Homo sapiens: one gene and its partners. The protein of the gene in region 4 interacts with the protein of the main gene of each other region in a biochemical or structural test. Each region holds a gene or a part of one and is shown on either strand. Other genes may lie near its edges.

Evidence for each region.
Region 1: the proteins of TBL1X (region 4) and MECP2 form a complex in vitro, tested with the Homo sapiens proteins (one study listed by BioGRID).
Region 2: of the proteins of TBL1X (region 4) and CASP3, one has a biochemical effect on the other in vitro, tested with the Homo sapiens proteins (one study listed by BioGRID).
Region 3: of the proteins of TBL1X (region 4) and CDC34, one has a biochemical effect on the other in vitro, tested with the Homo sapiens proteins (one study listed by BioGRID).
Region 5: the proteins of TBL1X (region 4) and THRA form a complex in vitro, tested with the Homo sapiens proteins (one study listed by BioGRID).

The regions. Positions count from the first base shown.
Region 1 is NC_000023.11:154,026,105-154,031,859, reverse strand, and holds part of MECP2 (methyl-CpG-binding protein 2), read left to right. Parts: intron 1-406; exon of another isoform or gene 407-409; coding exon 410-1,493; 3' UTR 1,494-5,755. UniProt on the Homo sapiens protein: Chromosomal protein that binds to methylated DNA. It can bind specifically to a single methyl-CpG pair. It is not influenced by sequences flanking the methyl-CpGs.
Region 2 is NC_000004.12:184,631,398-184,637,152, reverse strand, and holds part of CASP3 (caspase-3 isoform a preproprotein), read left to right. Parts: intron 1-1,734; coding exon 1,735-1,859; intron 1,860-4,756; coding exon 4,757-4,885; intron 4,886-5,212; coding exon 5,213-5,388; intron 5,389-5,755. UniProt on the Homo sapiens protein: Thiol protease that acts as a major effector caspase involved in the execution phase of apoptosis. Following cleavage and activation by initiator caspases (CASP8, CASP9 and/or CASP10), mediates execution of apoptosis by catalyzing cleavage of many proteins.
Region 3 is NC_000019.10:533,163-538,917, forward strand, and holds part of CDC34 (ubiquitin-conjugating enzyme E2 R1), read left to right. Parts: intron 1-2,674; coding exon 2,675-2,761; intron 2,762-3,080; coding exon 3,081-3,178; intron 3,179-3,850; coding exon 3,851-3,985; intron 3,986-5,515; coding exon of another isoform or gene 5,516-5,755. UniProt on the Homo sapiens protein: E2 ubiquitin-conjugating enzyme that accepts ubiquitin from an E1 ubiquitin-activating protein, and catalyzes its covalent attachment to other proteins by an E3 ubiquitin-protein ligase complex. In vitro catalyzes 'Lys-48'-linked polyubiquitination.
Region 4 is NC_000023.11:9,711,979-9,717,733, forward strand, and holds part of TBL1X (F-box-like/WD repeat-containing protein TBL1X), read left to right. Parts: intron 1-2,923; coding exon 2,924-3,025; intron 3,026-4,241; coding exon 4,242-4,268; 3' UTR 4,269-5,755. UniProt on the Homo sapiens protein: F-box-like protein involved in the recruitment of the ubiquitin/19S proteasome complex to nuclear receptor-regulated transcription units. Plays an essential role in transcription activation mediated by nuclear receptors.
Region 5 is NC_000017.11:40,071,481-40,077,235, forward strand, and holds part of THRA (thyroid hormone receptor alpha), read left to right. Parts: intron 1-1,108; exon of another isoform or gene 1,109-2,188; intron 2,189-2,711; 5' UTR 2,712-3,008; coding exon 3,009-3,061; intron 3,062-5,390; coding exon 5,391-5,458; intron 5,459-5,755.

The DNA of each region.
Region 1 (5,755 bases), about 140 Mb from region 4:
TTTGCAGACAGCCTCATTTAATTCCATGAGAAGGGTGAGCAAAGGATTATCTTGTTGAAACTGATTCCTGGAGAGACTGAGCACCGTACCTGAGTTCAAACTTGGGAATGTTCTAGATGGTGACTCAGGCCCAGGCACCAACCAGCAGAATGGGCCTCAGCCTGACAACCCTTCTGTACCAGGCCTGACTCTTTGGTTGCTGAACTTTGGAGAGGCCTGGGGGGGTCAGCGGCAGGCAGACGAGTGAGTGGCTTTGGTGACAGGTCCTCAGGGGCAGCCAGGCAGTGTGACTCTCGTTCAATAGTAACGTTTGTCAGAGCGTTGTCACCACCATCCGCTCTGCCCTATCTCTGACATTGCTATGGAGAGCCTCTAATTGTTCCTTGTGTCTTTCTGTTTGTCCCCACAGTCCCCAGGGAAAAGCCTTTCGCTCTAAAGTGGAGTTGATTGCGTACTTCGAAAAGGTAGGCGACACATCCCTGGACCCTAATGATTTTGACTTCACGGTAACTGGGAGAGGGAGCCCCTCCCGGCGAGAGCAGAAACCACCTAAGAAGCCCAAATCTCCCAAAGCTCCAGGAACTGGCAGAGGCCGGGGACGCCCCAAAGGGAGCGGCACCACGAGACCCAAGGCGGCCACGTCAGAGGGTGTGCAGGTGAAAAGGGTCCTGGAGAAAAGTCCTGGGAAGCTCCTTGTCAAGATGCCTTTTCAAACTTCGCCAGGGGGCAAGGCTGAGGGGGGTGGGGCCACCACATCCACCCAGGTCATGGTGATCAAACGCCCCGGCAGGAAGCGAAAAGCTGAGGCCGACCCTCAGGCCATTCCCAAGAAACGGGGCCGAAAGCCGGGGAGTGTGGTGGCAGCCGCTGCCGCCGAGGCCAAAAAGAAAGCCGTGAAGGAGTCTTCTATCCGATCTGTGCAGGAGACCGTACTCCCCATCAAGAAGCGCAAGACCCGGGAGACGGTCAGCATCGAGGTCAAGGAAGTGGTGAAGCCCCTGCTGGTGTCCACCCTCGGTGAGAAGAGCGGGAAAGGACTGAAGACCTGTAAGAGCCCTGGGCGGAAAAGCAAGGAGAGCAGCCCCAAGGGGCGCAGCAGCAGCGCCTCCTCACCCCCCAAGAAGGAGCACCACCACCATCACCACCACTCAGAGTCCCCAAAGGCCCCCGTGCCACTGCTCCCACCCCTGCCCCCACCTCCACCTGAGCCCGAGAGCTCCGAGGACCCCACCAGCCCCCCTGAGCCCCAGGACTTGAGCAGCAGCGTCTGCAAAGAGGAGAAGATGCCCAGAGGAGGCTCACTGGAGAGCGACGGCTGCCCCAAGGAGCCAGCTAAGACTCAGCCCGCGGTTGCCACCGCCGCCACGGCCGCAGAAAAGTACAAACACCGAGGGGAGGGAGAGCGCAAAGACATTGTTTCATCCTCCATGCCAAGGCCAAACAGAGAGGAGCCTGTGGACAGCCGGACGCCCGTGACCGAGAGAGTTAGCTGACTTTACACGGAGCGGATTGCAAAGCAAACCAACAAGAATAAAGGCAGCTGTTGTCTCTTCTCCTTATGGGTAGGGCTCTGACAAAGCTTCCCGATTAACTGAAATAAAAAATATTTTTTTTTCTTTCAGTAAACTTAGAGTTTCGTGGCTTCAGGGTGGGAGTAGTTGGAGCATTGGGGATGTTTTTCTTACCGACAAGCACAGTCAGGTTGAAGACCTAACCAGGGCCAGAAGTAGCTTTGCACTTTTCTAAACTAGGCTCCTTCAACAAGGCTTGCTGCAGATACTACTGACCAGACAAGCTGTTGACCAGGCACCTCCCCTCCCGCCCAAACCTTTCCCCCATGTGGTCGTTAGAGACAGAGCGACAGAGCAGTTGAGAGGACACTCCCGTTTTCGGTGCCATCAGTGCCCCGTCTACAGCTCCCCCAGCTCCCCCCACCTCCCCCACTCCCAACCACGTTGGGACAGGGAGGTGTGAGGCAGGAGAGACAGTTGGATTCTTTAGAGAAGATGGATATGACCAGTGGCTATGGCCTGTGCGATCCCACCCGTGGTGGCTCAAGTCTGGCCCCACACCAGCCCCAATCCAAAACTGGCAAGGACGCTTCACAGGACAGGAAAGTGGCACCTGTCTGCTCCAGCTCTGGCATGGCTAGGAGGGGGGAGTCCCTTGAACTACTGGGTGTAGACTGGCCTGAACCACAGGAGAGGATGGCCCAGGGTGAGGTGGCATGGTCCATTCTCAAGGGACGTCCTCCAACGGGTGGCGCTAGAGGCCATGGAGGCAGTAGGACAAGGTGCAGGCAGGCTGGCCTGGGGTCAGGCCGGGCAGAGCACAGCGGGGTGAGAGGGATTCCTAATCACTCAGAGCAGTCTGTGACTTAGTGGACAGGGGAGGGGGCAAAGGGGGAGGAGAAGAAAATGTTCTTCCAGTTACTTTCCAATTCTCCTTTAGGGACAGCTTAGAATTATTTGCACTATTGAGTCTTCATGTTCCCACTTCAAAACAAACAGATGCTCTGAGAGCAAACTGGCTTGAATTGGTGACATTTAGTCCCTCAAGCCACCAGATGTGACAGTGTTGAGAACTACCTGGATTTGTATATATACCTGCGCTTGTTTTAAAGTGGGCTCAGCACATAGGGTTCCCACGAAGCTCCGAAACTCTAAGTGTTTGCTGCAATTTTATAAGGACTTCCTGATTGGTTTCTCTTCTCCCCTTCCATTTCTGCCTTTTGTTCATTTCATCCTTTCACTTCTTTCCCTTCCTCCATCCTCCTCCTTCCTAGTTCATCCCTTCTCTTCCAGGCAGCCGCGGTGCCCAACCACACTTGTCGGCTCCAGTCCCCAGAACTCTGCCTGCCCTTTGTCCTCCTGCTGCCAGTACCAGCCCCACCCTGTTTTGAGCCCTGAGGAGGCCTTGGGCTCTGCTGAGTCCGACCTGGCCTGTCTGTGAAGAGCAAGAGAGCAGCAAGGTCTTGCTCTCCTAGGTAGCCCCCTCTTCCCTGGTAAGAAAAAGCAAAAGGCATTTCCCACCCTGAACAACGAGCCTTTTCACCCTTCTACTCTAGAGAAGTGGACTGGAGGAGCTGGGCCCGATTTGGTAGTTGAGGAAAGCACAGAGGCCTCCTGTGGCCTGCCAGTCATCGAGTGGCCCAACAGGGGCTCCATGCCAGCCGACCTTGACCTCACTCAGAAGTCCAGAGTCTAGCGTAGTGCAGCAGGGCAGTAGCGGTACCAATGCAGAACTCCCAAGACCCGAGCTGGGACCAGTACCTGGGTCCCCAGCCCTTCCTCTGCTCCCCCTTTTCCCTCGGAGTTCTTCTTGAATGGCAATGTTTTGCTTTTGCTCGATGCAGACAGGGGGCCAGAACACCACACATTTCACTGTCTGTCTGGTCCATAGCTGTGGTGTAGGGGCTTAGAGGCATGGGCTTGCTGTGGGTTTTTAATTGATCAGTTTTCATGTGGGATCCCATCTTTTTAACCTCTGTTCAGGAAGTCCTTATCTAGCTGCATATCTTCATCATATTGGTATATCCTTTTCTGTGTTTACAGAGATGTCTCTTATATCTAAATCTGTCCAACTGAGAAGTACCTTATCAAAGTAGCAAATGAGACAGCAGTCTTATGCTTCCAGAAACACCCACAGGCATGTCCCATGTGAGCTGCTGCCATGAACTGTCAAGTGTGTGTTGTCTTGTGTATTTCAGTTATTGTCCCTGGCTTCCTTACTATGGTGTAATCATGAAGGAGTGAAACATCATAGAAACTGTCTAGCACTTCCTTGCCAGTCTTTAGTGATCAGGAACCATAGTTGACAGTTCCAATCAGTAGCTTAAGAAAAAACCGTGTTTGTCTCTTCTGGAATGGTTAGAAGTGAGGGAGTTTGCCCCGTTCTGTTTGTAGAGTCTCATAGTTGGACTTTCTAGCATATATGTGTCCATTTCCTTATGCTGTAAAAGCAAGTCCTGCAACCAAACTCCCATCAGCCCAATCCCTGATCCCTGATCCCTTCCACCTGCTCTGCTGATGACCCCCCCAGCTTCACTTCTGACTCTTCCCCAGGAAGGGAAGGGGGGTCAGAAGAGAGGGTGAGTCCTCCAGAACTCTTCCTCCAAGGACAGAAGGCTCCTGCCCCCATAGTGGCCTCGAACTCCTGGCACTACCAAAGGACACTTATCCACGAGAGCGCAGCATCCGACCAGGTTGTCACTGAGAAGATGTTTATTTTGGTCAGTTGGGTTTTTATGTATTATACTTAGTCAAATGTAATGTGGCTTCTGGAATCATTGTCCAGAGCTGCTTCCCCGTCACCTGGGCGTCATCTGGTCCTGGTAAGAGGAGTGCGTGGCCCACCAGGCCCCCCTGTCACCCATGACAGTTCATTCAGGGCCGATGGGGCAGTCGTGGTTGGGAACACAGCATTTCAAGCGTCACTTTATTTCATTCGGGCCCCACCTGCAGCTCCCTCAAAGAGGCAGTTGCCCAGCCTCTTTCCCTTCCAGTTTATTCCAGAGCTGCCAGTGGGGCCTGAGGCTCCTTAGGGTTTTCTCTCTATTTCCCCCTTTCTTCCTCATTCCCTCGTCTTTCCCAAAGGCATCACGAGTCAGTCGCCTTTCAGCAGGCAGCCTTGGCGGTTTATCGCCCTGGCAGGCAGGGGCCCTGCAGCTCTCATGCTGCCCCTGCCTTGGGGTCAGGTTGACAGGAGGTTGGAGGGAAAGCCTTAAGCTGCAGGATTCTCACCAGCTGTGTCCGGCCCAGTTTTGGGGTGTGACCTCAATTTCAATTTTGTCTGTACTTGAACATTATGAAGATGGGGGCCTCTTTCAGTGAATTTGTGAACAGCAGAATTGACCGACAGCTTTCCAGTACCCATGGGGCTAGGTCATTAAGGCCACATCCACAGTCTCCCCCACCCTTGTTCCAGTTGTTAGTTACTACCTCCTCTCCTGACAATACTGTATGTCGTCGAGCTCCCCCCAGGTCTACCCCTCCCGGCCCTGCCTGCTGGTGGGCTTGTCATAGCCAGTGGGATTGCCGGTCTTGACAGCTCAGTGAGCTGGAGATACTTGGTCACAGCCAGGCGCTAGCACAGCTCCCTTCTGTTGATGCTGTATTCCCATATCAAAAGACACAGGGGACACCCAGAAACGCCACATCCCCCAATCCATCAGTGCCAAACTAGCCAACGGCCCCAGCTTCTCAGCTCGCTGGATGGCGGAAGCTGCTACTCGTGAGCGCCAGTGCGGGTGCAGACAATCTTCTGTTGGGTGGCATCATTCCAGGCCCGAAGCATGAACAGTGCACCTGGGACAGGGAGCAGCCCCAAATTGTCACCTGCTTCTCTGCCCAGCTTTTCATTGCTGTGACAGTGATGGCGAAAGAGGGTAATAACCAGACACAAACTGCCAAGTTGGGTGGAGAAAGGAGTTTCTTTAGCTGACAGAATCTCTGAATTTTAAATCACTTAGTAAGCGGCTCAAGCCCAGGAGGGAGCAGAGGGATACGAGCGGAGTCCCCTGCGCGGGACCATCTGGAATTGGTTTAGCCCAAGTGGAGCCTGACAGCCAGAACTCTGTGTCCCCCGTCTAACCACAGCTCCTTTTCCAGAGCATTCCAGTCAGGCTCTCTGGGCTGACTGGGCCAGGGGAGGTTACAGGTACCAGTTCTTTAAGAAGATCTTTGGGCATATACATTTTTAGCCTGTGTCATTGCCCCAAATGGATTCCTGTTTCAAGTTCACACCTGCAGATTCT
Region 2 (5,755 bases), on a different chromosome or scaffold from region 4:
TGGGGGTCTTGCTGTGTTGCCCAGGCTGGTCTCCAATGCCTGGCCTCAAGGGATCCTCCTGCCTCGGCCTCCCAAAGTGCTGGGAGTACAGGTGTGAACCACCCTGCCTGGCCCTACCTTTTCATGTCATGCAGAACACCACTTCAATAACAAGTTGCACGGAAGCCCCAGACAGGTTTAGGGTTGTTTCGATCCTTTGGTAAGTTGCCCTCACAGTCCCGGCTTTCACAGCCTCTGCCTTTTATTAGGAGTATCCCCTCGTGGACTAGCTATCATATGCTTGTAAAGTACCTACCTCCTTAGGAGGCACCCAGAGCACGTGGGGAAGGGGTGTCGGGAGCTGGGAGTCATAAGTCCCATGATCCATCATCTGTAGGACTCAAAGGTCAAGTCACGCTTTCAGGATTTAACTTCAGTCTGTAAATGTGAGGCTGTTCACCTCTGGTTAAAAATCATAACTGTTTTCTCACGTTGACTCCTTTAATTTACTACATTTAATCTTTTTCCAACAGTATTTTTGGAATTGTGTATAATGTGAGATGCTCTTAAGGTTAAGTGCATGAGTATATGGACTGTAGGTGTTAGTGTTTGGTAGTTCCTAGACCTGTTTTTGCCTGACTCTTGGTCTAGATCAGGGATCAAGCTTAAGGCCTGTTTTTATCAACTTTCGTTGGAATATAGGCACATCCATTCGCTTACATATTGTCCTAAGCCCGTTTCACCAGTATAATTGAGCAGCTATGGCTGGGCACAGTGGCTCACAACTGTAATCCCAGCACTTTTGGAGGCCAAGGCAGGAGGATCACTTGAGGCCAGGAGTTCAAGACTAGCCTGGGCAACATAGCGAGATCCTGTCTCTAAAAAAGAAAATACAGAAATTAGCTGGGCATGGTGGGGCATGCCTGTCTGTAGTCCTAGCTACTCAGAAGGCTGAGGAAGGAGTATCACTGGAGCCCAAGAGTTCAAAGTTGCAGTGAGCTATGATGGCACCACTGCACTCCAGCTTGGGTGACAGAGCCAGACCATGTCTCAAAAAAAAAAAAAAAAGAATAGAATTGAGTAGCTGTAACAGAAACCAGATGGCCCACAAGCCTAAAACACTTAATATTTAGCCCATTAAAAAAAAAGTTTACTGACCCCAATCTAGATAGCAGAGGTTTTTTTAGATAAGTGACTTCCAGACAGATATTTTCAATTATTTACAATAATGCTTTTATATATTAATAAATTACTAATTTGTTTAGCTCATGGGGTTTAAGGAATAATTTATGAATTGTGATAAATATTGTGCTTTGAGTTATATTTGCATTTTGTTGATTTCCCATCATTTCAGGGTAATTTTTAAGATTTTTACTCTTACCTCAAAGGATAAAATATTTCACAAAGTTAATAAGTAATTTTTAAATTATAAAGGTATTTGATGAAATTTTGAAGAATTTAGAGGAAAATGTAAAACATGGAAGTTAAAAGCCTGAACTCTGAAGTCCAACAGATGCTTTCCTTCCTTCTTGGCTGTGACACAATATTTGCATAACCTTTAGCACATTACTTAGCCTCACGTCAGGTCATTTTCTCATCTGTATAACTGTTGATGTGAAATTGAAATGAAGACAGCCTGGTTTATAACATTCAACAAGTGTTAACTGTTACTGTGAGTTATAAAAATTGCACTAATATAAACAGAAGGCGTGGTCATTTCTACCTTTGTAAAGCTATTATTTGATTTCTAAACAGAAAGATCATACATGGAAGCGAATCAATGGACTCTGGAATATCCCTGGACAACAGTTATAAAATGGATTATCCTGAGATGGGTTTATGTATAATAATTAATAATAAGAATTTTCATAAAAGCACTGGTATGTGTCTTACATAATTTTTAATCCTTTTCAAATGTTTGTGCCATTTACATTTGATATAATATTAAAAGCAGTATTATTGAGGTATTAGACAGTAAACCGTGACACAGACTAGCTGTGAAGTAGAGATTGGGCAGGACCTACAGGTCCTCTGATACACTGTGAACGCGTCACTCTTCTGCCCAACTTCATAGCCTCCTCTTGCTGGCCTCCTATCTGTATGCTTGGTTGCCTCTGCCCTGACTTCTCTGTAGCCCTTGCTTCTTTTTCTTCTTTCTGCTTCCTCTTTGATCCCAATGGAAGGTTCTCAAAAAAACAGTTAAGTGGTAGTATTTATTTTTTCCCCAGAAACTGCAAGAGATATCACAAGCATTGCCTTATTTAATTTATGACAACCTGGAAAGTAACGATGAGATTCTGAAAGGTTAAAGACCTCGCGCAGTCACACAGTATGGCGGCAGAGCTAGGTCTGTGTGGCTCCAAAGCCCAAGCTCTGAATCCATCTTCTGTTCTGCTTCACTTCCTTGTATCCTCATGTGCTCTGTTGCCTGTCTTCCCTTACCCTACGAAGCTCCCCATCTTAGAGAGACCTTTCTTTTACTCTGTTCCTTTTGATTCCTTTGATATTTTGTCTCCTTCCCTTCTTCCTTAAATTTTGAATACATGTAGTTTAAGCTTGTACTCTTCATTTGTTTCCATTCCTTCTTGAGTCTTTTTCCATTTTCTGTCTCTACTACTAAAACTGCTTGCTTTAAATTTACCATGGCCTTGCCACCAGATCCCCCTCTCGATTTCTGTACTATGTACAACTTGAATGTAGTACTACATTTGAGAATGTTTTTTTAGAAATATAGATAATAAAATCCTTCACAGTGCCAAAAAAGCTAATTAATATTTGGTGTATTGTTATTTTTTCTTGGCAGTTCTTTTTAAAGCTTGATTTTATTCATAACGTATAAGCAATGTTGTCTTCTGCTTGTTTCACTTAAAGGAATAGCATTTTTCATATTGCTGCATAATTTTCATATCTGTTATAATGATTATATAATACTGCATCCCCAAAACTACCATTCACTTAATTTGAATAATTTACTGTATGAATGAACATTATGGCTGTTTCCCTTTTAAATTGATGCTATGATAATTCTTTGAATTGGCCTATTAATCATATTAGAGTTAATTTTTAATTAGAGAAGCTGTAGTAGATCTAAGGTGGGCCAGTACCTATCAGAGTGGTGGTGGAAATGGAAGGAAGCCAGATTACACTGGGAAGATAGCAGGGTTTGTGTCAGATTAATTATAAGGAGTGAGAAGAGAATAGTTGAAAATGGAGCTCTAAATGGCATCAGTTTTATTGCTTTTGGCTATAAGTTGAGATGCCACCTTCAACCATTAACTTAAAAACACAACACCTTGTTTACTTTTGCTTTACGCATATTTGAAAATTTACTTCTAGATATTCTGCCTCACATTTCTAGTTAGGATACCTCCTTCCTATAGAATTTTGCACTGTTGGCTCTATTGTTTCAAAAACCAAAAACAAGCATATTATTCCACTACCACCAGCACCTCCCCCCACATATTTAGACCAGCAGTCTGGGTTTTGCCCAGTGAGCTCCTTTCCTACTTTGCAATGTAAAGGTCAGGTTCTCATGAGATCTCTGGCAGGCTGGTGTTGGGCCAGGCGCCATGGCTCACACATGTAATCCCAACACTTTGGGAGGCCAAGGCAGGAGGATCCTTGAGCACCAAAGTTCAAGATCAGTCTGGGCAACACAGGGAAATCCCATCTCTACAAAACAGAAAAAAGGTAGCAGGGTGTGGTGGTGCGCACCTGTAGTCCCAGCTACTCGGGAGGCTGAGGTGGGAAGATAGCTTGAATCTGGGAGGTTGAGGCTGCAGTGAGCTGTGGTTGCTGTACTCTAGCCTGGGCCACAGAGCAAGATCCTGTCTAAAAAATAAAAATAAATAAAAATTAAAAGGCAGCCAACACATCAGCACCAGAAGCCAGTGACCTTGTCACACAGCTGAGATAATCAACAACATTTTGGAGATACATGTAGACTTTCTGTATTTAATCTTCATACCCATCAAATTTACTCAATTCTGAGGGATGTTTCCCACCAAGATTTAGCATTTTGAAATCTGAGTGCATCATGCAGTCAATCTGTACGTTAATGTGGAAGGTTCTCTAAAGGAGTGGTAGAAAGCCCAGGAGCCCTGGATACAGGCCCAGCATAGCTTTGTCACTTTGGACTGGTTTGTTAACTCTGCTACATGTCCCACATCTGCACAAGTGAAACTAGTAATAATATGACTCTCATGGTGATTGGAAGGATTAGAGATTAGCCATAGCAGAATACCTGATGAACAGTAATAATGTTTGGGGGTTTTCCTTGAAGGCACTATAAATGTTGTAATGCTATCTTAAAATTGTTGGGAAGTTAGAGTCAGAGAAACGCATTTCCTCTGAGTGTGACAGATGTGTGTATGTATTATAGGATCGTATTGTTTTCTAGTCTTATTTTTTTAAACTGATGATTTTCCCATGGCAACATTTTATCTGTGAAAATGACAACATAGTATATCCCATTATATAAGTTAGTATAGCTTGTCTAACCAAACCCTTATTGTTAGACATTTGTGTTTTTCACTACCTAAACCGCTGTGAAAGACATCATTTTGGCTATAACACTGATGAGCTTATATTATGAAGTATCTTATAAGCTACAAAATTGAAGAAATTTTGTTCACCATGTTCAAAATAGTTAGAATTCTCTTACCATTTAAAAGGAAGAATTTATTGTGGACTTCTGAATTGCTGAGTAGTTAATTTCATTTCAAAGTAGTTATTCTTTGTTTTCCATACAATTAAAAGTAATTCTTTCTGTTCCAAGGAATGACATCTCGGTCTGGTACAGATGTCGATGCAGCAAACCTCAGGGAAACATTCAGAAACTTGAAATATGAAGTCAGGAATAAAAATGATCTTACACGTGAAGAAATTGTGGAATTGATGCGTGATGGTAAGAAGAAACAATTAGAATGAACTTCATTGTACAATTAATTTTATACTATGGTCTAGCAATAATTATATGTATAATAAAATATGAGAATTGTGGAATTATACTGTACATAACCCTAATCTTACATACTTTAGTAAGAAGTTTAAAAAAAGTTATTTATGCCAACTTCCTAAAATGGTTTGAGATGTGTTGCCGTGCCCCAGGTTAGGTTAAGATGACCTCTTAGTTTTAGTCTCAGTTTCTTCATCATGTTCCCATACAGTATATCTGAAGTTGTTGAATAAAGTCATGGATTTTTTTTCCTTTTATTTGCAAATGTCTTTACAGTTTCTAAAGAAGATCACAGCAAAAGGAGCAGTTTTGTTTGTGTGCTTCTGAGCCATGGTGAAGAAGGAATAATTTTTGGAACAAATGGACCTGTTGACCTGAAAAAAATAACAAACTTTTTCAGAGGGGATCGTTGTAGAAGTCTAACTGGAAAACCCAAACTTTTCATTATTCAGGTAATGTCTAACTGAGTGATTTGGTTATTGACGATTAAGCAGGGGTTACTATTCTCAACTGTAAATTATCCAAAGGATAATTTTTTTCCTGAAGCTAATGAACTATTGTTACTTTTCATTTATTTACCACTTAAAAGATATAGAGTAAATTTTAATTTTATACTTATATCAAAAAGACTCAGCATAATTAACATCCTTTTTTTTTTTTTTTTTTTTTTTTTTAGACAGAGTCTTGCTCTGTCGCCCAGGCTGGAGTACAGTGGCGCGATCTCCGCTCACTGCAAGCTCTGCCTCCTGGGTTCACGCCATTCTCCTGCCTCAGCCTCCTGAGTAGCTGGGACTACAGGCGCCTGCCACCAGGCCCAGC
Region 3 (5,755 bases), on a different chromosome or scaffold from region 4:
GGCCAGAGGGACAAAGCGAGGGGCCCTGTGTGAGCGGTGGGGAACGAGCACCCTGTCCAGGAATCTCCCCCTCCCACCGTCACTTCCTGCCAAGAGCCTGGACACGACACGACACTGCAGGGCCCGGCCCGCTCTGCCCCGGCCAGCTGCGGGCGTGGGGCCGAGGGACCGATGCCTCCCGCACGATATGTGTCTGCTCTCCGAGCTAATTAGTGTCTGAACCGCACCCGCTCAGCGGCTGTGAGGGCAGCAGCCTGGTCTGCTGGGGGCGATTCCTGAGCAGAGAGTGGGACGCCCGTGGGTTCTGCATCTGGAATCCTGCGTCCCCACACAGGGAACAGAGTTTGGGTCTCGAGGTTGCCAAATGGTTTTAGCAGCTCCTCCGCCAGCCCCTTCTGTCTGCTTGGGGGAGCAGCTGGCTGAGGAGCCGCAGCCCCACCTCGAAGCCAGGCCTGTGAGGCGGCTGCTGTTCTGGAAGGAGGGGATGGGGGTTTCTGGCTGCTGTGCCCACCAGACCGGTTGCCAGGGATTGTGGGCAGAGCTTCCTGGGCCAGCATTAGGGGATAATCCGGTTTTCCGGATTTCCCAGGGAGGGGGCCTCTAGACATCTGCCACAGGGTCAGTCCTCAGAAGCCAGTGTTGAGACGGGGGTGCTGCCACCCACGAGGACTCTCCCTTCCCGCTGTGCCTGGGAGGGAGTTGGGGGAGCGTGGAAATACAGAACCTGCTGAGTGCCCAGGGCCGCTGCTGCCCAGCCACTGCCTGCAGCTGCTGTTCCTTCAGGAGCCAAAGTGAGCCCTGGGGCAGGGGCCGCCAGAGAGAGCCCTCCACAGCCGACTTGCTGTCTGCCCTTGGCAGGGCGCTTTCCTTTTCTGAGCCTGGGTTTGCTCCGGGGAAAAGACATTCTTAGAGGTGCCCAAAATAAGAGGCTCATTGGGACTTGGTGGGGTTTGGTACAGATGAGGCCTTGGCTGTTGTCAAGGATTGCCGCCTGAAACCCAGCACCAGGCTTGGGGGGCCTGAAGTCTTGGGGAACCGCAGGACAGTTCTGAGACTGAAGTTCCAGCCTTGCTCTGTGGCCGCGGCCAAGTCACTTGCCTTACGGGGCACCAGTGAGTTCCCTGTCAAACAGAGGACACCCCCCAAGACACCCCGCGTGCCCTCCCTGTCCAGGAGGGGCCCGTCCACGATCCAAGACCCCCAAAGTGCCCTGCCTGTCCGGGAGGGGCCTCGCCCACAATCCAAGACCCCCGAGTACCCTCCCTGTCCAGACCTCGCCCACGATCCAAGACCCCCTGAGTGCCCTCCCTGTCCAGACCTCACCCACGATCCAAGACCCCCTGAGTGCCCTCCCTGTCCAGACCTCGCCCACAATCCAAGACCCCCGAGTACCCTCCCTGTCAAGGCCTCGCCCACGATCCAAGACCCCCGAGTGCCCGCCCTGTCCAGACCTCGCCCACGATCCAAGACCCCCGAGTGCCCTCCCTGTCCAGACCTCGCCCACGATCCAAGACCCCCGAGTGCCCTCCCTGTCCAGACCTCGCCCACGATCCAAGACCCCCGAGTGCCCTCCCTGTCCAGACCTCGCCCACGATCCAAGACCCCCGAGTGCCCTCCCTGTCCAGACCTCGCCCATGATCCAAGACCCCCGAGTGCCCTCCCTGTCCAGACCTCGCCCACGATCCAAGACCCCCTGAGTGCCCTCCCTGTCCAGACCTCGCCCACGATCCAAGACCCCCTGAGTGCCCTCCCTGTCCAGGCTTCCACCACGATCGCTCTGGGGGTGCTGCTCTCGTGCCTTGGAGTGCTGAGTGCCACCAGGACCCCTGACCCAGACAACCTCTGTGTCTGGCACTGGGGCCCAGCAGGAAAACAGTGAGGCTTCCTTGTTTACCTGCTGTGGCCCAGGAGGGCCGTGGGTGGCATCACGCCCCAGGCTGCAGGCCAGACAGCTCTGTCACCTGGCACGTGGCTTCAGGCCTCCCTCTGTGGCCGTCCTTGCCAGCAGATCTGGACCTCCAGGGCCTGGGTGACCACAGGGGGCGATGCTGACAGGGAAGGAGTCCTGCCAGGTTTCTGTGACCTATGGGTCTGCCTGCCTGACCCCCCAAGACCGGACACCTGAGGGCAGACGGCCATACTGACTCATCCCCTCCCACGGCCTGGGCCAGGGCAGGTGTCACAAGTGTTTGCTAACTGAGCAATCATCTGTGCTAACCCTCCCCACACCCTGGCTGCCAAGGCCCTGGAGGTGCAGCCCTGGTCCTGGGCTTCAGCTCCATCCAAGGGGAGCCTGGAGCCCCTGCCAGTCCATTCTGTCTGCTGGTGGGTGCCCCTGGCCTGGGTCCCATATGCCTGACCTGGGCTGCCACGGGCCTGGAGCCACGCGGGCAGCCAGTGCCCACGTTCCCCAGCAGTTGTGCTGGGCCGGGTCCCGGCCACCTGGACTGTGTAGGAGCTGGGATCAGCTCGGGTGACTCAGAAAAGGCTTCAGGCAGCCTTCTGGGGACTTGACCCCAGGCCTGTGAGAGTCCCTGCCTTGGGCAGGATACGGTGTCCCTCACACACACCCTCAGGCACCAGCACTGGGAGTGGGATGGCCTTGGGCACCTTGTGAGCTGGGGCAGGTCTTGGGGCTGGGCTGGACTGAGCCACCTGCCTTCTGCCCCTGCAGGCGCGCCTCAAGTTCCCCATCGACTACCCATACTCTCCACCAGCCTTTCGGTTCCTGACCAAGATGTGGCACCCTAACATCTACGAGGTGAGCGCGGCCCCCACGGGCCTCAAGTCCTCATCCTCCGGGACCCAGGGTGCTGGGAGCCTCACGTCCTCATCCTTCCGGGACCCGGGGCGCTGGGAGCCTCACGTCCTCGTCCTCCGGGACCCGGGGCGCTGGGAGCCTCACGTCCTCGTCCTTCCGGGACCCGAGGCGCTGGGAGCCTCATGTCCTCGTCCTTCCGGGACCCGGGGCGCTGGGAGCCTCACGTCCTCGTCCTCCACGTCCTCATCCTCCGGGACCTGGGGCACTGGGAGCCCGTGCTGACCTCTGACCTGTTCTGACCTGTCTTCTTCTTGTGCAGACGGGGGACGTGTGTATCTCCATCCTCCACCCGCCGGTGGACGACCCCCAGAGCGGGGAGCTGCCCTCAGAGAGGTGGAACCCCACGCAGAACGTCAGGTAAGCCGGCCCAACCCCCTGTGTCCACCCAGAACATCAGGTAGGCCGGGCTCCGTCCCGTATCCACCCAGACCATCAGGTAGGCCGGGCTCCCCCACAGGCTGTGGCGCCAAGGCCTGATTCGGGACCTGCCAGCTGGCGGTCCTGGGCCTCGCTGTACCTGCACGGTAGGTGCTTTCACGGGGCCTGCGGCACCGTGTGTCGGTGCAGACTCCCACCAGGACCCCAGGCCGGCCCCACCGTCTGGAACCACCTAGAGGTGTCCCGCCATCCTCAGTCCTGGGGCCTTCTCCTTACCCAGCCGTCTCTGGGTTGGTCACCTCGTGCCACGTGTGCCGCCTGGGCCTCGTCCCCAGGTACAAGCACTGGGCCGTGTTGCCCGTGTGTCCTGGAGTGTAGTCTAGGCAGGACGTGCGGGTGTGAGGGCAGCCCCGGGTCTGACGGAGGGGTCTGCACCTTGCTGCCCTCCCTGGTCTTGGCGTGGGAGGGAGGAGACTGATGCAGGTCCAGCCCCTGCTGTTCTGGGGGCCTGAGACAGAAGCAGAGGCCATGAGGCCAGGTGAAGGTCACCTGCTGGGTGGGTCCAGGCGTCCCCGTGACCCTCAGGGCCAGAGAAGAGCCGGAAGGCTGGGGTGCCCCGGGCCGCCCCACTCCGACCCACTCTCCCCACAGGACCATTCTCCTGAGTGTGATCTCCCTCCTGAACGAGCCCAACACCTTCTCGCCCGCAAACGTGGACGCCTCCGTGATGTACAGGAAGTGGAAAGAGAGCAAGGGGAAGGATCGGGAGTACACAGACATCATCCGGTGAGGGCGGGCGGGGGCGTCACGGGAGGAGAGACTCAGATCCGGCCTGCACCCCGGCCCCTGGTCCCACGGCCGCCCAGCCCCACCTTCCTGGTGAGGGTGGCGGAGCTTCCTGGTGCCCATTTACAGGGTGCCAGTCACAGATGGAGGCCGGGCCGAGTGGCGGAGGGTCCAGCCAGGTTCAAGCCCAGCTTCTTGCCCCTTTTCCTCTTTTTTTTTGTTTGAGACAGAGTCTCTCTCTGTCACCCAGGCTGGAGTGCAGTGGCGCGATCTCGGCTCACTGCAAGCTCCGCCTCCCGGGTTCACGCCATTCTCCTGCCTCAGCCTCCCAAGTAGCTGGGACTACAGGCGCCCGTCACCACGCCCGGCTAATTTTTTGTATTTTTAGTAGAGACGGGGTTTCAGCGTGTTAGCCAGGATGGTCTCGATCTCCTGACCTCGTGATCCATCTGCCTCGGCCTCCCAAAGTGCAGGGATTACAGGCGTGAGCCACCGCGGCCGGCCTTTTTTTTTTTTTTTTTTTTTGGAGACAGAGTTATACTCTCTTGCCTAGGCTGCAGTGCAGTGGTGCGATCTCGGCTCACTGCAGCCTCCACTACTCGGGTTGGAGCAGTTCTCCCCCTTCATCCTGCCAAGCAGCTGGGATTACAGGTGCCCACTACCACGCCGAGCTAATTTTTGTAATTTTTAGTAGAGGTGGGATTTCACCATCTTAGCCAGGCTGGTCTCAAACTCCTGACCTCAGGTGATCCACCCGCCTCGGCCTCCCAAAGTGCTGGGATGACAGGCGTGAGCCACTGCACCTGGCCTGGTGGTTAGTGTTTTCATAGATTCTTCCAGGCTTTTCAGTTTAACGCATGTCTGTGCTTTAATGAAGAAATGGGGTCGTGCTGTGTGTGCCCAGTGACTGACTGTTAGGGAACATGTGTCTGTGCCTTAATGAAGAAATGGGGTCGTGCTGTGTGTGCCCAGTGACTGACTGTTAGGGAACATGTGTCTGTGCTTTAATGAAAAAATGGGGTCGTGCTGTGTGTGCCCAGTGACTGACTGTTAGTCAGGGGTGTTGGCCTTACTCATGTCTGGAGTGCGTCCCTGCAGGCTCTTGGCCTGGTGAGCTCTGGGTACAGCTGTGCAGTCGCCTACCGGCGCCTTCTGTACCTGCAGTCCACTTAGCTTGCGTGGCTGTGTGTGGTGACCCACGGCTCTCCCTCTCCTCCCATCGCCCTCATGCCCCAGAGCTGAGCCCCACAGCCCCTTCTCTTGGGTGCCTGTGTTCACATGAATGTGTAAACACGTGCGTGTCTGTGTACAAAGACAAGGCTTTCTTTACGGGTTGACGGCCTTAATGGTTCCTGCTCTTCCTGTTACATAGAGGCCCTTCCTATCCATTTTTTTTTTTTCTCAGAGTGATATTGCATAGATTTCCTCACAGAGGCCTCACCTATTTTTGTTGGTATTTTGTATAAACAGAATCTTAAAAACAACTTTTAAAATATTGCACACATAATGCATGTGTCTTCCTCGCCCCAGGACCCAGGAGCATCCAGGGCACCTTCCATCCTGCACTCGCTGGTACCTGGTGTCGTGGGGTCATCTCGGGGCAGCATCCTGGTGCTGGGCGGTCTCGGCTCTGAGCAGCCATGGTGGGCGGGCCCCGTGCGGCCTCCTGGGAAGTGGCCTGCAAGCACCTGCTGGCCTCTGGAGGTCACAGGGTAGCTGCCCTGGCCGTCCCTCTGGTGCAGATGTCCTCGGTGGCCCCGGTCCGGTCGT
Region 4 (5,755 bases):
CCCTGAGGAAGGGCGTCGTGTCCACCGTAATCATGGCTCTTGGCCATTTGATTCCAAACCCTCACCTTGGCACACGTTCTTCCTTGAAGGAGCCGCTGTCTTCTGTTCACTTTTCTGAGTCCATGGCACGAAACCTTCCACCTGCCTCTTCCTCTTCTTAGCAGTTATCACCGAAGTGCTGCTCTCTAGATACTGAGGTTAGAAGGTGGGAGTGGGGGACCAGCTAACGGGGTCAAGGCCACACCAGCTCCTGCAGCTCCCTTACGGAGCAGACCAGGGAGTGGGAAGGAATGTGCTCTTGCTGTTGTCATGCCACTTCAATTTTTCTTTTCTGTTTTGTTTTGTTGTTGTTGTTTTTTGTTTTTGTTTTTGTTTTTGAGACGGAGTCTCACTCTGTCACCCAGGCTGGAGTGCAGTGGCGCGATCTTGGCTCACTGCAACCTCTGCCTCCCAGATTCAAGCAAGTCTCCTGCCTCAGCCTCCTGAATAGCTGGAATTACAGGCACCCGCCATCATGCCCAGCTTATTTTTGTATTTTTAGTAGAGACAGGGTTTCACATGTTGGCCAGGATGGTCTTGAACTCCTGACCTCAGGTGATCCGCCCACTTTTGCCTCCCAAAGTGCTGGGATTACAGGTGTGAGCCACCGTGCCTAGCCTCAATTTTTCAAATCAAAGTAGGTTCTGTTTGAGGACATAAGGTATGTCAATATTGGGTTGTCCTTTTAGCAGGGATTGAAAGGACATAGGATTTAAATAAAGGTGGCTGCTGTGGGTATCTTGGGCCACACCTGAGGATAGAAGAATTCCAGCTGTAAAGTGTAGAAATGGATGGGAAGTAGCACTGCATAGCATAAAGGATTGTATAGGGCCATCAGCACGTGATTCTAGTCTAAGGGAAGAGAGAGGTGATAATATGCTAGGAGCTGTTGAAAATAAGGAAGGGGTCCCTTTCGCCTCAGGAGGGGAGGAATCACACAGCCTTCCCCCTGCCCCCTTTCATCTGCACTGCCTTCTTGGTTCCTTTTGGCTTGGTTGACATTCAGGTGGATTTATACCCTCAAGTTCATTCCCCCTGTGGACTCAATGGTGATGAGCCCTGTTCACTGGCAAGGGGTCCACTGAGATCACAGGCTTCCCAGGGACCTCATGTGAACCACATCCTCTCAGGGAAGGAAGGGAAATGGTGGACCCTGCGTAGAGCCAACCCGACGCCAAGCCCAGCCCCACAGCCCTAGATAGCTCTCCGGGAAGCACGCATCTCAGCACTAGTGTCCAAGAGTCTCCGTTCCTGAAATCCTCGCTAGAAATAGTAATGGGTGGATTTGTAAAAAGAACACATCAATTATCAAAACAATGACATGATCAGTTAGGTACAGCCTGTTGTCAGGAACTCACTGAACTGTTTCAACCCTTTTTTATAAATCAAAGAAATCCTTAGGACTTTTCTTTTTTTTTTTTTTTTTTGGATCGGAGTTTCACTCTCGTCACCCAGGCTGGAGTACAGTGATGCCATCTCGGCCCACTGCGACCTCTGCCTCCCGGGTTTGAGCGATTCTCCTGCCTCAGCCTCCCGAGTAGCTGGGATTACAGGTGCGCACCACCACAGCCGGCTAACTTTTGTATTTTTAGTACAAACGGGGTCTCACCATGTTGGCCAGGCTGGTGTTGAACTCCTGACCCCAGGCAATCTACCCACCTCGGCCTCCCAAAGTGCTGGGATTACAGGCATGAGCCACCGCGCCCGGCCAAGAAATCCTTAGGAATTTTCTTAAGAGAAATCTTAAAGCCCACTTTAATCTTTCTCCAAGTATAAAAATACTTATCTGTAATACTGCCGACACACACCTTTCTCAGTTCATGGAACACCACCCTTTAAGGGGCCCAATTGAGCAGAGGATTTGGGACAGCCCTCCTGGTCTCGGTGTTCAGATTTCTCCTGCCTGTCACCATAGTGAATCATGAGTGAAGGCTTATTCGACTCTTTCTCTCTTTTTTATTTTTTAAAATTAATTTTTGTAGAGACGAAGTCTCACTGTGTTGCCCAGGCTAGTCTTGAACTCTTGGGCTCAATCCGTCCTCCCGCCTCGGCCTCCCAAAGTGCTGGGATTACAGGGTGAGCCACCTCGCCTGGCCTTATTCAACTCTTTCAAAGGCCTCAACTTCCCCTACCTCTTAGATTTGTCAAGTTAATGCTGTTTTAAACCGGAAACCAATGGTCTGTGGTGTTTTCCATTACATGTATATTATGCATTTCTTCTTTCAAATGTCCAAAAATACGTACATTTTAATGTCATGGCATATTATTACATTTAATCATGAATTACAGTCAATTTAATTGCTACTGGGGTGGGTGTATTCATTATGTTGTATTCATTCAGGTCCTCCAAAGAACAGACACCAGAACAGGATTAGATGGGCGAGAGATTTATTGGGGGAAAGAGCTGTGATGGAAACAGGGAGGAAGGTAGGGGGAAGGGAGAATTCAGACCATAAGGCCAGTCTGACCCTGGGAAGGAGACGGGAAGGGTAGGAAGAGTCAGGGATGGCCCTTACAGGTCTGTAGAAAGTTTTGGTCGTGCTGATGGAGAGTCCATGAGCCACTTACCCACCAGATGAGTCTGAGTCTCAGCAGGTGACTGCCATGGTCTCCCGCCTCCATCAGTCCTCAGCTGGGTGCAGCCTCAGAATCCACGCAAATGTGGCAGATTCCGCAGGCATAAGTAATCAGGTTCACTCCTCGTGGTGGGAAGTCCTAGAGGCACATCTCCATGGCCCCCAGAGTCCTTACTGAAAACCCTTAAATTTCACCATGCTTGAAAATGTTCATGACGAAACGTCAGGGCCGGAGGAGCGCACATTCCACACCTGCATCTGTCGCAGGCGCCCCTTGCGTTGTAAGTGACAGCTGCTTTGCTTTGCAGAGTGGAAATCTTGTCCACAGCTACCGAGGCACTGGCGGCATCTTCGAGGTGTGCTGGAACGCCCGAGGAGACAAAGTGGGTGCCAGCGCGTCCGACGGCTCTGTAAGCAACACCTCTGGTTTGCTGGGGAGTGGGGTGTTGGGGGCAGCTGATGCCTAAGTGAGCTTCCAGGGCGTGTGCAGCATTCGTGTCCTGAAGGGCCTAGCCCAGTGCCAAAGGAAGCTTCTGGGCTGGATCCCATCGGAGTTGGTACCACATCTGGGAATGGCCTTCTCCTTGTCCCTTCCAGAGTGTCCTTCTAGTCAACATTTTCTCAGTCAAATTGGTGGTTCTCAACCAGGGTGATTCTGCACCTCTAAGGACATTAGACAATATCTGGAGCCATTTTAGGTTGTCACTACAGTCATGTGTCGCTTAATGACGGGAACGTTTTGGGAAATGTGTCATTAGGCACTTTTATCTTTGTCTGAACATCATAGAGTGACTGACACAAACCTAGATGATAATACCTGTCCCACACCGAGGCTGTGTGGTACAGCCTATTGCTCCCAGGCTACAAACCTGGACAGCGGGTGACCATACTGATTCCTGTAGGCAACCAGAACACAATGGTAAGCATTTGTGCGTCCGGATCTATCTAAACATAGAAAAGGTTCAGCAGATATATGGTTATAATCTTACAGGACCACTGCGGTCTGTGCGGTGCGTTGTTGCTGGAAACGTCATTATGTGACGCGTGACTGTGCTTAGATGAGGATGCTGCTAAACCTCCTACTGTGCACAGGGTGGCCACAATTGTCACCCATGCTGTGGCTGAGAAGCCCGGGCCTCTGGTGGCCATCCTGCAGGTCTCCTGGGCCCTCTTCTCTTCCCATGGGGCATCTGGATTTCTTATTTTCCCCTGGACTTGAGGTTGCCCTGACCTCTGGGGCAAGCGGCCGTTCTGGCTGAACGGCCAAGGGTCAGAGTAGTCCCCAAATGTTGTCAGAGGCTGTGTACTTGGGCTCGTATTGTCATCTGCCCCACGATTGCAGGTGTCCCTTCTGGGACCTCTGCCACTCTGTTAATTCCTATCATTACCCTTAACCTGGCCTTTCTGCTCTGTGCTGTTTGCTTCAGTTTGCTCGGTCCGATGTCCAGATGCCAGTCTGTTATGAGAGCTTCTCTGACCCTTCATGACGATGTTCCAATAAACTTTACTGACAAACATCGGTGGAGGGCTAGATTGGGCGTGGGGGCCGTAGCTTGCCGACTTCTCACTCTAAAGGCATCTTTGTATTGTCTCTCAAGATGACAGGTGCTTTATCTTTCCTTCCAGGTGTGTGTTTTGGATCTGCGGAAGTAACCACAAAATATTATCGAAAAAAGAAAAGAATTCTAATGACCAGCCGTGAATGTGTAGGGTTGCAGCTCTATTCTCCAAAACTGTAGGAACTTGACTTGCGTTAGAGTGTACTCTGAAACCAACTCGTCTCTGGCCGCAGGAGTCTATATGTTTTCGTAATCTTCATCAAGAAGTTTTTAAAAGGCAAGCAAAAACAGAAGCAAATCATATCAAACGGGGATAGAATGGTTTCCACTGAGGACATTCAGCCTGGGAAGGAGGAAGTCACCAGCTCGAGGCGTGTGGATTGGTTTCCACCCGGAACAGGCTCTGTGATGGCTGAATGGAAAGAAACGTAAAAAGCTGTGCCAAAAAAAAAGCAAAATGCTGTGATAAACCAAACAGGGAAGGGGGAAAAACCCTCCTCCTTGGGATTTTTTTTTTTTGTTTTCCCTAACAATTTGGACACTACAATTGCTCTCACAAAGGAGGTTCAAAGACCAGTTTGTACCGATGAAACGCGCAACTTTGTAATCCCAACACTTTCTATTTTCTAGAATCTTCTTTGTTCATTGGGTGGTTTTTCAGTCGGCTGGAATTCTATCTTCTGGGGGCCTTCCGTCTGAGATGGAAGCTGTCTTGGGCTTGTTGTCTCTTCCTTCTGTTGCTCCCTGCCCCTCCCCCTGCCTTTCCACTCTGTCTGGTGAGCTCTGCTTTTTCAGTGCACCATCAAGAGATGCAGCCCCGTGGACATGAAGACACAATCTCCCACGGACAGCTTTCCCCCTTCCGCCCTCTCCCACCCTCTCCTCCCCTTGCGCTCGCGCTCGCGCTCGCTTTCTCACTGGCGTGCTCTCTTTCTCTCTCTCTCTCCCTCTGTACCTTTCTCATAGTTGCTTCAGATCTTAGGTCTCAAGGGCACTTTGGCGCGTAGTAAGTGCTTTATGTAAGAAGGCAGGGCAGGGGGGCTTTTTACAGGAGAAAAAAAAATGACTTATAAGAGAAAGAGCCTGGAGTATTTTTGGAAAAAAAAATAATATTTTTATGTTAAAACAATTTTAAAATCTTAAAATGGCCATCAGACATAGAGAGCTTTGTGTGATTCATGTTTTAAAAAGAACCGAAGAAGCCACAGGCAGGGCCTGAGGGAGCCCCTGGCTTTCCCCTCAGCCTCAGGAAAGGTGGTCAGGAAAACTCTGGCTGGACAAGGGTCAGTCTTCGGGGTCAGCAGCGAGATTGCTCTGCAGCCAGTGAGGGAGGTCCCCGCCATGCCGGCTGGAAGAAGAACCTCGCATCTTTTGGTGTGTATGCACCTTGGCAGCCAGCAGGAAAGCAGCGAAGAGCCGCGCGCCCTCTGGCCTCAAGGGAGCATTGGCAGAACCATAAGGTACTGCAGAAGCCGTCGAAACCGACTGCTCGGCTGGATTAGGCGTGTTGGCTACATCTTTCCCACAACCGTATAACGACCGATGGTCATTTCTCCAAGAGCAGGCTTGGCGAGTCCTTGC
Region 5 (5,755 bases), on a different chromosome or scaffold from region 4:
CTTTGCCTACACTGCCTCCCAGCAGCTCTTATCTCACAAGGAGGGAGTGGGTGGCCAGGCCAGCCGACAGGTGGGTCTTGCTGTCCTGCTGTCCAGCCTGGGCACAGAACCCCATAGCTCCGCCCCCTCGGCCTCCTTGGGGCAGGGCCTCCCTCGCCTCTGCAGAGGAGGTACCAGGAAGGAGTTTGGGGAGTTAAGCTGGACTCTGGAGGAGGGGTGAGAGGCTGCCCTTCAGGGTGGGTACCCCTGCCCCATGCCCCTTACCCGCTGACCTTTTTCTGTCCGTGGCTAACACAGGCTCATGTGGTATGTGTCTCCCCACATGCTGGGCCCTCTGCCTCGCCTCTGTATCACCCCAAAGGCCCAAGTGTGTCCCTGGAGAGATGCCAAGGAGTCCCCAGGGGTTCCAGCCTCTTTCTGGGTACCCAGTGAGGGTGCCCTAGGCAGCAAGGGCAGCACCTTGCTCCTCTGCCCACTACCAGGGGCTGACTGTAGCTGGGCTGCACTGCCCAGCACCAGGGCACCATTCAGTTCAAAAGAGGGGTGGGGCAGAGAGCGAGTCTGCCCCTCCCCCCAGTGGGCACGTGCAGGCCCTTGGCAGTACCCAGACACATTTGGAGTTAAGGCTGGGCAGGAGAGAGGGATGGGGAAATAAACATGGTGGCTTAGGTTGGCACTGCTCCAGGTCTGCAATGTAGCAACTGGTAAGTGGCAGGGGCCTGGGGGAGGGGACCCTCAGGAGCCCTGGCCTGGGGCAGGAGCTGCCCATGCCATGTGGCTGCCACTGGTGTTCCCCGCCTGGCCCGGCCCACAGCAGCCAGTGCTCATTCCTGCACACACTGGTCCTCCTCGGCTGCCCCCAGGACCTGCTCCCCGGGGCTGCCCCTCTCTCAGCATGCCCACTCCTGTGCTTGCCTCCTCCCCTCCCTGGGGGCGCTTGGGCCTCCGGCTGGCGAGTGGATTTTTCCAGCTTCTGTAAACAAGTGGTGGCAGTGTGCCAGGCGGGCAGGAGACAGGCGGGGGCAGCACCACAGCCAGGGTGTGCCAAGCACCGAGGCACAGCCTGGGGGGCAGACGGAGACACCCAGACCCGGAGAGAGAGACATTCAGACACAGACAGACAGACAGACATGCAGGCAGCCTCGCTGGACGTGGAGTCAGAAGATCGTCCTCTATTGTCCAGCCCAACCCCCGTAGCGGCCCTCGCCCCCTGCCCCTCACTGTCTGGCTGAGAGCATTAGGCCCCAGTGCCCAGCCCCTGGGCTTCCCCACCCACTCCTTCTCCTCCCCAACCTCCACCCCTTAGGGCTGGCTACGCCATTATAAATTTATAACAGGAATTTCTCCACAAGCCAAGAAAAACTTGACCTACTTTCTTGATGGCTCCCTGGGCTAAGGCTCCCTGCTCATGCCCCCCCACCCCAGTCTCCTGTCCAGCCCCCAGTGCCCAGTCCTGGTCTGGGGTGGGTATCAGAGGTAGAACGGGCCACTTTTCTGTGCAATGCCCATGCTCTCCACACTACCAGCTTGCCTGGGTGCAGAGGCCCCGTTCTGCTGCTGGCCCTGCCCAATCCCCTGACTTATCTCCCTCTCTCTTCCCACCCTGGCTGCTTATCAGCTCCTGGGGGTGGGGCCAGGGGGCCTAGGGGTGAGGTCTCCTATGCAGCAGCCACGTGACAGAGGTTGAGGTCGTATGTTGGGGAGCTGTACCCTTTGTCCCCCTCCTACCCGCCACACCTGCCTGTGTGCACACAGACAGTAAGCCACAGGTCTGCAGCCCAGGGTCAGAGGTGCAATGCCGTAGGAATGGTGGGCCCGGCTTGGCACTGCCCTGGACTCCAGGTAGCAGAACAAGGCTAGCATTAGGGCCAGGCTGTGAGGCTTATCCCACAGCCACCTGCTTACTAGTTGTGTGAACTTGAGTGAATGACCAAGCTTTCTGAGACTCAGTTTCCTCATCTGTGAAGTTCTCGTGCCCTCTTTGGAGGGTACAGATTCTCTCTCCAGTTAATATGTGTTAGTTTCCTTTCCTTTCCCCCTTGCCATCCTGGTCGATAGCAGCTCAGCTAAACCAACTGAGAAGTCTGGTCCTCTGCCTGGGAAGTGGGATTCGAGACCTTGCGTGGGAAGCTCTGGAGTCCCTGAGGGGCCAGAGTTGGGGATCATAACTTGGCTGGCAGCATGGGAGGTCAGTTCCCTACAGCTTTCAACATCTCTCTCTATTAAGGCACAAAGATGGGCATTCATGCTCACTGCGTGCCGCTCTATGTCCCATCCTTCCTTCACAGATACCCTCCCTGCCTATGCTGAAAACTGCTTGTCTCTGGTCCCCTCTTGCCCCTATAATACAGATGAGTTTCAGGAAAGCTTTTCTAGAGGGGTGGTAACAATAGCTAGTGTTTAATAGTTGCTCATTAAGGGCCAGGCATTTGTCTGAATATGAAGACTGAGACATATTACTTAGTACATGAATGATCTCATTCTCTCCCTCCATTCCTTCCCATGTCTGGGGCTTAGGAGGTGGATCTCCAATCTCGCCTGCTGTACCTGTTATCTAAGGGATCATCCTGGTCCCCTCTCTATGCCTGCCCTTCCTGCCCCCTGCTGTCTTGTTATGGGATCCCAAAGCCCCAAATGTTGCCACCAAAGGGATCCTACCCACCTTCCTACCGTGACACCTTCTTACCCCTGCCTCTCTCTTCTCTCCACAGGGATCTCTGGACAGGACAAGACTCCGAAGCTACTCCCCCAGCACACAGCCCGGGACCCACAAACCCAGCTTGCCCCCAGCCCTCCCACCTGCCACTCCCTGGCCCCTCCCACCGCCCGCCCCCCTTGGGGCGCAGGGCATGGTGTGAAAGGCCAAGTGCTGAGGCGGGTATCATGGGTGCTGTGCCCTAGGGCCTGGGTGGCAGGGGGTGGGTGGCCTGTGGGTGTGCCGGGGGGGCCAGTGTGCCCACCCCAGTCTCTTGGCGTGCTGGAGGGCATCCTGGATGGAATTGAAGTGAATGGAACAGAAGCCAAGCAAGGTGGAGTGTGGGTCAGACCCAGAGGAGAACAGGTAATGGGTTCAGCAACTAGGTCATGCCAACTCCTAAGCAGCAGGCATGGGCACCTGGCTGAGCTCTCCTTTAGGCACCGCCTTTAAGCACCTCTGTGGGATGGACGTGAGGCCAGCAAGCCTTCTGCCTACCTTTGTCTGGCAGATGAAGTCATGTTCAGATGTGACAGGCACTTGGATTGAGAGATGCTCATTTTGAAGCGGGGAGCGATACAGAGCAATTACAGGGAGCACATAAGGGGCTCTTCCCTAGACATTGCTGGGCAGTCTCAGATGCCCCCAACGTCCCTTCCACCATTGCTGCCCTTACCTTGAGCATGTGGGATCCAAACAGCCTTGCCATTTTCTTCCTCTCCCTACCAGCCCATTTACTATCTGACCACAAGTGTGTTGTCCACAAGCTGCGGTTCACGTAATACATTTCAGGGCACATGCACCAGTAACTATTGGTCATAGCCCAAGCTTATATTCGGAATCTATTGGGAGCCCCACAAGCTCTTCCTTGTTCATGGTCAAGGGCGGGCACTGCGATGGGGCTCCTCCCAGAAAGTGCACGCCAACCATGATGGTTTTGCTTCCACATGGGTGAGGTGTCAGCCCTGCACATACACCAAGGGATGGTTACCTGTGATCTGCATTGCCCTTGAGGAGCCCAGAGGGTCTCTGTCTTTTCTATCAGCTCCAAGTGGCACAGAGCTTTGTCCCAGTTGGCACGGTGCCCTGGGAGCTGGGTACAGCCTGTGCCTATGGCCAGGGAGAGGGTGGGGGTGGGGGTGCTCCGGGGAGCAGTGTGGCTGACTGTTGCCTAGGAGATCAGATCCCGAGCCAGGAAGCCAGAGGCCTGGCCAGGCAAAGCCCTAAGGCCCACAACTGGGTCCCTGGAGGGTAGAGGAAGTAGATGGAACTCACAGCTGGGCAGGGCATGGGGTAGCTCCCCTCCCCCAAAGCCTCACCCCAGGAAGGACTCTGAGGACGATCTGGCCTGTCGCTGTGTGGCTGTCACTTGCAGCCCCTGTGTCTCCCAGCTTAGGCTTCTGTGGGTCTGGAAGAGTCTGTGCTTAATGTTTGGAGAAAGGCAGGAATGCCAGTTCCCAGTCTCCTAAGACTGCAACCCCTCCCCCATCACCTTCCCCTCCCCCATGTCTATGCGCCACCTTGTGGCTATCTCTAGGACTACACTCAGAGGCTGTGAGTCTGGTGGTAACTGCTGAAGCCGCTAGCTCAACTGGGGCCTAGGTGGGCTGAGTTCCCCTGCACCCAACCCTCTGGGAGGCGTGAGGGAGACCTGACCTTTCAGCCTCATAGGAAGTAGACCGGAGTAATCCCCACGGGGCGTGGAGCATAGGGTTGTCTGTGACTGTGACCCTGGCCAAGGTCACTGTGTCAGTGTGTTGGGAGCTGCATCCGGCTCCAGGAGGAAGGGGCCTGCAACATGCCACACGCAGGGTGGGTGCGGGAGGTTATACAATCCTTGCATGCATGTAGAGGGCTTATGTAACCTGTGTGCACCGAGGTTATGCAACATGTATGTGGAGAGCCTGGCAACATATATGTGCAGTGGCTGAGGGTTGCTAATAATACGCTGCACAGAGGGGCTCAGTCCCGGCTCTGACTCTAGCTCATGGTGTCACCAGGCACAAGCAGGGTCTCAGTTTGCTGCTCTGTTAAATGGAGGCTGTGCAGAGGGTGTAGTGTTTTCTATTGCTGTGGGTTATTTAGCATGTGTGTATGACCTGGAGCTCAAGCAACACGTGCACACTGGAGGGATGAGGGTGGTTTTATGAGGTGCCTGTGCAGAGTGTTGTGTAACACATGGGCATATCCTAGAGGTTGTATAGCACATTTAAGAATGCCCTGAAAATTTCACAGGTATGTTGGCCCTGGTGCATACTCACCATCCATGGGTTTATAGTGAAGGTTGCATGGTTATTCATCTGTGCCGGTGTTATGTTGCATATGTATGTGTGTGTTCTAAAGGCTACATAGCTTTAAGCATATCCTGAGAATTCTTCCAGCGTATTCGTCATGTACTGAAAGATGAGGATGTCCTGCAGATTATGGGTGCTTCAGGTCTTCTGGCGGGTGAATGTGTGTGTGTTGGGGCTCTAGAATATGCTTGTGCCACAGCCAAGCCCCTTATCTCTCTCCCCTGCAACTTCCAGATAACTGGACCCTTTTAAGCATTGTCAGCTGACCCTGGGGGGTGGGAGGTAGAATGAGGACACAAAATGGAAAGAATCAGGCCTTGGGGGATTGCATAAGCCTCTCGGATGAGAAAGGGGCTACTCGAAGACTGCTCTGTGATTCTGCCCACTTTGCCTCCATCCAGTGCCAGGTCACCAGATGGAAAGCGAAAAAGAAAGAACGGCCAATGTTCCCTGAAAACCAGCATGTCAGGTGAGGCTGGCTGTGCGTGCCCCTTCTCCACGTCCCCAACCCCACCAAACCCAGCCAGGGCTCCTCTGGACCTGGATGTGGAACAGTAATTCATGTGTTCCCTGGGGGGAGCCTCCTAGAGGGCTTGGGATGGACTTGTCTGGGGGTGAGAAAGGTAATGTGGGATGTGCCCAGCTTTTGAGGGTGGATTAGGTCAGGACGGCCTCTTCCCTCTTCCCCTAATACCCTCATCTGAGGCCCTACCAGAATCAGGGCCTGAGCTGAAGGACTGAGGGGCTGTATTATCCCCAGTGAGCA